Linked DNA regions of Homo sapiens. The protein of the gene in region 1 purifies or fractionates together with the protein of each later gene. This does not show direct contact. Each region holds a gene or a part of one and is shown in the gene's direction. Other genes may lie near its edges.

What was found. The genes of interacting proteins can lie anywhere in the genome.
Region 2: the proteins of PNO1 (region 1) and MIB1 purify together in Homo sapiens (affinity purification with mass spectrometry; one large-scale study listed by BioGRID and IntAct). This does not show direct contact.

Annotation. Positions count from the first base shown.
Region 1 is NC_000002.12:68,167,786-68,171,440, forward strand, and holds part of PNO1 (RNA-binding protein PNO1), read left to right. Parts: intron 1-3,655. UniProt on the Homo sapiens protein: Part of the small subunit (SSU) processome, first precursor of the small eukaryotic ribosomal subunit.
Region 2 is NC_000018.10:21,747,238-21,750,892, forward strand, and holds part of MIB1 (E3 ubiquitin-protein ligase MIB1), read left to right. Parts: intron 1-3,655. UniProt on the Homo sapiens protein: E3 ubiquitin-protein ligase that mediates ubiquitination of Delta receptors, which act as ligands of Notch proteins.

The DNA of each region.
Region 1 (3,655 bases):
CACCTCTTTCTAACATTATCGAAGCATCCTTTGCTGGCGTTAAGTTCTCCAGCTTTAGATCCTTCATTTTCCTTTTGCTGTAAGTTGTCATATAATGACTTAATTTTTTTCTCCATCATATTAGACTCTATAGATGTGTCTTTCTTAGAACAATCCTGCACCCACATAAAAGCTGCATTTCCAATTTGAGATTGTCAAGAAAAGAATCACAAGATCTATAAATTTGGAGAGGAAACTTTATTTCTTAGAAAGGGTTGCAGTCTGCAGGGTGGCCATTCTGACAGGCTGGAAAGTATAGCCTTCAGCAGAGACCAAAAGCAGGCACTCTGAAGGAGGAAAGGATGAGACAGGAATTTATGCTGAATGCGTTGGCCAAGTATACTTATTTAACAGGTTATAGGAGGAGCTCTGAATATAAGAGGGGTCCTAATGCTTGTATACCGAGTAAATGTACAACCCCTGGTCGCTTTGGGGTGGAGACTTAACATTTAAAATACCTGACAATTAGATCCTGTATGTTACAAGATGAAATAGGGACAGGGACATGACAACTGAATGCACTGCCTCTGGAAGCTGGTAGTACCAGTCCATGGTCAGTGATCTCTTATCAGGAGATGTTACTGGGATCAGTCTCTTGTCCAATCAAAGCTGTAGTTACTGTTTGTGGAACAGAGTGTGGGAAGAGGGAAGCTGGGGTCAATCTGTATCTAGCTGTTGGTGAGCTGTAATTGTTTTAATATTGTTTATCACAAGGCCAGTGCTTGTTAAGCTGCTAGAGAAAAAAAAATATCCTGTGGCAATTAGAATGTCATTTACTCTTTAAGTGTAGGGTGTATGACTTAACCCTTGCCCAGGTGGTCTTAGGTCTTGTTTACAATTTGATATCTTATTGCCACAGTCTGTTCTGTCTTGCCTGGGCGCCTAGGGGCTTTATTTTTATTTTATAAGATAAAGGGGTATTTGGCAAAACTGCAGGTGTATTCATATCTGCTGTTATAGCTGCAGTGACAGCTTCATGAATTTCCTTTTCTTTTTTTTACAATGGTCCTATGGTATAGTCATTTATCTTGAAGTGGTGGGCAACTGCAACTGCAGGCCTCAGTCAACAGTACCTATCAAGCAATTCAGCTTTTTTCTTTTTTTTTTTTTTTTTTTTTTTTTGAGATGGAGTCTCCCTCTATCGCCAAGGCTGAAGTGCAGTGGTGCAATCTCGGCTCACTGCAACCTCCACCTCCCGGGTTCAATGGATTCTCCTGCCTCAGCCTCCTGAGTAGCTGCAACTATAGGCATTTGCCACCATGCCCAGCTAATTTTTTTGTATTTTTAGTAGAGATGGGGTTTCACCGTGTTAGGCAGGATGGTCTCAATCTCGTGACCTCGCAGTCCACCCGCCTCGGGCTCCCAAAGTGCTGGGATTACAGGTGTGAGCCACTGCGCCTGGCCAGTTCAGCTTTTTCTTGTACTGTCATGACTTTTCTGTGCTGCTTTGGAGCACTCCCAACATCACTAGTGGCACTTTATGTGGGACCCACGTTGGGTGGGTCCTATGGTCCCAAAGCTTACAATATTGCACTAAGATTAAAAATAGGCAAGAACTGCGAGAAATCACTTTCTACTGTGATAGACAGTTTATTGGAGAGTCAAAACTGCTTATGGGAGATAATCAGCATCACATGTGATCAGCATCACATGGCATTCTAAGTGGATACTTGCAACACCTGAGCTCACCACAAGAGCAATAGGTGGTGGCTGTGAAGTTGTCGTACAGTATGCACTACAGTTAATTTTATGGAGTTATGATTTAATACTGCATCTTTGCATTTGTTTCCATTTCTCTTGACTACAAATGGCATCATATATGGCTTGTGTTTGTGTGCGTAAGTTTTAATTTTAACTTTTTATAATAGATTTGTGTATATTTTACGGTAGTAAATAAGATAGACTAGTACCTACATACAGTTTATGCATTCATGACGTAGCTTTTTCTTAATTTTTTTGACATTTCTACGATACTTAGCTCCTCTCTGGGTTTTTTCACATCTCCAAAATATCTTCCAGTATATGTGTTGAAAAAAATTTGTGTGTAACTGGACCTGTGCAGTTCAAACCTATTATTCAAAAGTCAGCTGTATTACATCTTGTTTATCCAGTCACAGTAGATGGACTTTTGGGTTGTTTTCAGTTTGTGGCTATGAGAATAATGTTGCTACTGAATTACTTATATCTTTTGTGTTTTCTTACAAACTGAATTACAGACTACTTGAAATTAAGAGATGTACTATCTCTTGCTTTTGCTGTAGACAGGCTAGTTGGAAATCCACGTTTAACAGTTTATATTAATTATAATAAAGCTGTTAGATGGGCTGTTGTGTACCTATAAAAGTTATTTTTGATGAGTTGCCAATAACCTGGCAAAATACAGTAAGTATAATGTGAGCCAGATAGAAAACTAAAAACAATTGGTTCCAGGTATGTTTAATACAGCAGATGGGAAATGATGTTGCCTCTGTGTCTTGAAGCCTCCATTCCTTTCCAACTATTGCCCCATTACTTTGGTTCTTTGTGCAGCAAAACTACTCCCATCTGTTCTTGTTGTCTTTATTTCCTCATCTGTCATGCTCTGTTTTAAATAATTTTAATCAAAGTTAAACATACACATAGTTTTAAAAAGCCAAATATTGGCCGGGCGTGATGGCTCACACCTGTAATCCCAGCACTTTGGGAGGCCGAGGCGGGCGGATCACAATGTCAGGAGATCGAGACCATCCTGGCTAACACGGTGAAACCCCGTCTCTACTAAAAATACAAAAAAATTAGTCGGGCGTGGTGGTGGGCACCTGTAGTCCCAGTTACTTGGGAGGCTGAGGCAGGAGAATGGCGAGAATCCGAGAGGCGGAGCTTGCAGTGAGCCGAGATTGCGCCACTGCACTCCAGCCTGGGGGACAGAGCAAGACTCCGTCTCAAAAAAAAAAAAAAAAAAAAAAGCCAAAAATTTCTACTGCCTACCTCCATTTCACCCTTTTCAGGGGAACCAATTTCAACTCTTTTAGCTTATCTTAAAAAATTATTTGTCTCTGTATTTCCAGATATTTTGTTCATATACAGCCTCTTATTTTTCAGATTCACTATTGACTTTCTACCATCAAAGATGAAGATTTAGCTGTCTTTCACCCCCTTACTTCCACTGCACACACTCAGCCTTTCTGTCACTCCGATTTATTCTTCTCTGTCCTCCTGATGGTCCCCTTGTGGTTTTTGTTAGATTCGTGTTCAGTATTACCTGAAAACAGAAATCAGTGCTCAGTGTACTTATAGCTGAGCCAGGTGAAATACTGTGACTGCCTTATCTTTCTTTTGCAGCATTGTTTTCACTTGAGGAAGTAACTCTTATGTGTCTATGTCCTTTCTTCATTTTCGTCGTACTAATTCAGTAAGAAGCTATACGTTGTCTGTATCTCCTCTTGATGTATTCGAATGCATCTAATATTTGAGAAATCTCTCCTGGAGATGTTCTGTTCCAAAAACGCCCCCATGCTTTCTGCGTGCATTCTGGCTGCACAGCCATCATCCTGGGTTCCCTGTCCCCTGCCTCTTGGAGTCTCTTTCCCAGAGTTCTGCTTCTTGATATTCCTGCTGCTGATTTAGGCATCAGTTG
Region 2 (3,655 bases), on another chromosome or scaffold:
TATGAAAGTCTATCTAGTTCTTAATAGTCCCTGTAGATTGCAGCTTGGTTGAGCTGAGGACTTCAAGAAATCAACTAGTAGACCCCTGTGTCAGTACTTCTCAAACTTAAAGCACACAGATCACCTGGGGACCTTTTAAAATGCAGATTCTGGTTCAGTAAGTTTGGGATTCTGCGAGAGTATTTCTAATAAGCTCATAGGTGATGCAGATACTGCAGGCTCAAGGACACACTTTGAATAGCAGAGTACTAAGTGACTATTTGTCTACTTGAGATGCCCTGCGTTTCTGTTTTCTCCTTTTCCTTTCAACAGATTCCAAGCCTTGATTGTTTGTTGGTAATACATGTCTTTAAAACTAGATTGGCATTATTAGTTGGGGAGAAGAGAAGTGTGTACAACTGAAATAAAGGAGCATGTAACACCTTTCTAATATATGTACTTTTTGTAAGTGTAATGCTATCTTAATGTGTATTTTCGATCCTATACTTTCCAGCCTGTCCCTCTGATTAGATTAGCTATTTCTTTTTGAATGTGTTCCCAGGTAGCCACCCACCAGGGTCTCTCCTCCACCCTCTATAATTGCTAGCTAGTGTGATATCCCCACATGTGTGCTTTCATCTGTTAAAGCAGGGTATGCTGTGTTGTAATTGTCTTTTGCACTAGATTATTAGTTTAAGGGAAAGGGTCTGTGTTATTCTTGTATCTCCATTTTCTAGCAGAACCATGTCTCTGGATGAGTATTTTCTGAATCAGACACACTTTTCAAAGAGCTTTTGACTCATTGGATCAGAGATTAGATAGATATTATCCTAAAACAAGATAAAAGGAAACTCAGATTCAGAGAGATTAAGAAATTTGTCCAGTCACAAAGCTGGTGAGTGGCAGATAGTAGGGATGAATGCCAGTTGATTGCTTTTCCTCAGTATCATTCTCTTTTTCTTTTATAGTATAGTGGTTCAGAAACATGACCACCTGTAACACTTTGCTTGTGGGAAAATTGATAATGAAATGTAAACCAATTTAGAAATGAAACTTTGTGATACATCCTGTTGTAAATTGTTCAGTGCTCTTTTCAAAACCATTCTTTTTTTGCTTTGCTTTGCTTTTCTTCCTCTCTCCCTCCCTCCCTCCCTCTCTCCCCCCTCCCTCTCTCCCCCCTCCCTCTCTCCCTCTCTCCCTCTTTCCCCCCTTCTCCCTTTCTCTTCTTTCTTTCTGGAGTTTCACTCTTGTCCCCCAGGCCAGAGTGCAGTGGTGCAGTCTTGGCTCACTGCAACCTCTGCCTCCTGGGCTCAAGCCATCTTCCCACCTCAGCCTTTTGAGTAGCTGGGACTACAGGTGCGCACCACCATGCACAGCTAATTTGTGTATTTTTTTGTAGAGATAGGGTCCTGCCGTGTTGCCCAGGTTGGTCTTGAACTTGTGAGGTCAAGTGATCCATCTGCCTTGGCCTCCCAAAGTGCTGGGATTACAGCTGTGAGCCATCATGCCCAGCCTTTTTTTTTTTTTTTTTTTTTTTAAAGAGTTTCACTCTGTTGCCCAGGCTGGAGAGCAGTGGTGTGATTATAGCTCATTGCAACCTCGAATTCTTGGGCTCAGGTGATCCGCCTACCTCAGCCTCCCGAGTAGCTAGGACTATAGGTGCACACCACCAAGCCTGGCTAATTTTTTTTTATTTTTTATTTTTCTTAGAGTTGAGGTCTTGCTGTATCACCCAGGCTGGTCTCAAACTCTTGGCCTCAAGTGATCCTTCAACCTCAGCATCCCAGATTGCCTGGATTACAGGCATGAGCCACTGAGCCCTGCTTGTTTCTTTCTAGTGTGTCTTTTTTGCACAGCTAAGGTTTTACTGTATACATAGTTTGTTTCATTCTTTTTTTTCCACTTGACGTGTGTTTTCTGTATTCCTTATAAATAATCTAATATGTACTTCCTATATGGTAAAATAAGGTGACATTTATGTCTTAACTACTTAGAGAGAAATATATATGTATTTCCATATAGGTATGCCATATGTACTGTTCTTCAGCTTTCTTTTTAAATGAATATTGTCTTGGACATCTTGCAGTGTTAGCACATAAGAATCTGTCTTATTCTTTTTGGTCGGTACATAGTATTTAATAGTTAAAAAATATATTACTTAACTATTCTTTTGATAGACATTTATAGTGTTTTCTTTTTTGTCATTTTAAACAACACTGCAACAAGTATCTTTGTGTATACATACCTTTGTGTACTAATTTTTAGCTTTTAAATTAATTTGTTACAGGAATTTCTGTTATAAATGACATGGCTAAATATTGTCCTCACTGACTTTGAGAACATTTGTCTTTTAATAGAGGAATTTAACTTGTTCATATGTATTGTGACAACTGATACATTTTTTCTAATTACTGCTACCTTACTCTTTTTTTTTTTTTTTTGAAATGGAGTTTTCCTTTTATTGCCCAGGCTGGAGTACAATGGCGCGATCTTGGCTCATCAAAACCTCTGCCTCCCAGGTTCAAGTGGTTCTCCTGCCTCAGCCTCCCAAGTAGCTGAGATTACAGGCATGCCCCACCATTCCCGGCTAATTTTTTGTATTTTCAGTAGAGACCGTGTTTCCCCATGTTGGTCAGGCTGGTCTCGAACTCCCGACCTCAGGTGATCCACCCACCTCAGCTTTCCAAAGTGCTGGGATTACAGGCATGAGCCATCACACCTGGCTGCTACCTTACTTTTTAACTTTCCAGTTTTCTTGTATTTTTTTTTTTAACCAGTGAGTTAGAAATTTTATCACCTTTTTTTCTGCTCTGCTAATTATTACCTTTTAATATTTAACAAACAGATTGAAAAATTAGGTTTTTTTTGCATGTAGAAAAACTAAACAGTCTCTTTAATTACTCCTGCCCATACTTCTTTCTTTATTTTTTTGAGGTGGAGTCTCACTCTGTTGCCCAGGCTGGAGTGCAATGGCATGATCTCAGCTCACTGCAACCTCTACCTCCTGGGTGCAAGCAATTCTCCTACTGGGTGCAAGCGATTCTCCTACCTCAGCCTCCTGAGTAGCTGGGATTACAGGCGGGTGCCACCATGTCCAGCTAATTTTTGTATTTTATTTTTATTTTTTTTGAGACGGAGTCTCGCTCTGTCGTCCAGGCTAGAGTGCAGTGGCAAGATCTCAGTTCACTGCAAGCTCCGCCTCTCGGGTTCATGCCATTCTGCTGCCTCAGCCTCCTGAGTAGCTGGGATTACAGGCGCATGCCACCATGCCCCGCTAACTTTTCATATTTTTAGTAGAGACGGGGTTTCACCGTGTTAGCCATGATGGTCTCCATCTCCTGATCTTGTGATCCGCCCGCCTCGGCCTCCCAAAGTGCTGGGATTACAGGCGTAAGCCACCACGCTCGGCCTAATTTTTTGTATTTTTAGTAGAGATGGGGTTTCACCATGTTGGCCAGACTGGTCTGGAACTCCTGACCTCAGGTGATCCACCCGCCTCAGCCTCCCAAAGTCCTGCGATTACAGGCGTGAGCCACTGCGCCCGGCCATCTCCTGCCCCACACCTCTTACCTTTTTCATTGTGTTGGTTTTATGTAAATTTTCAGGAAAATTAGTCCCAAATTTTTGTTTGCATTGTCCTTTCTCCCCAACCATACTCCTGTAAATATATGCTTCT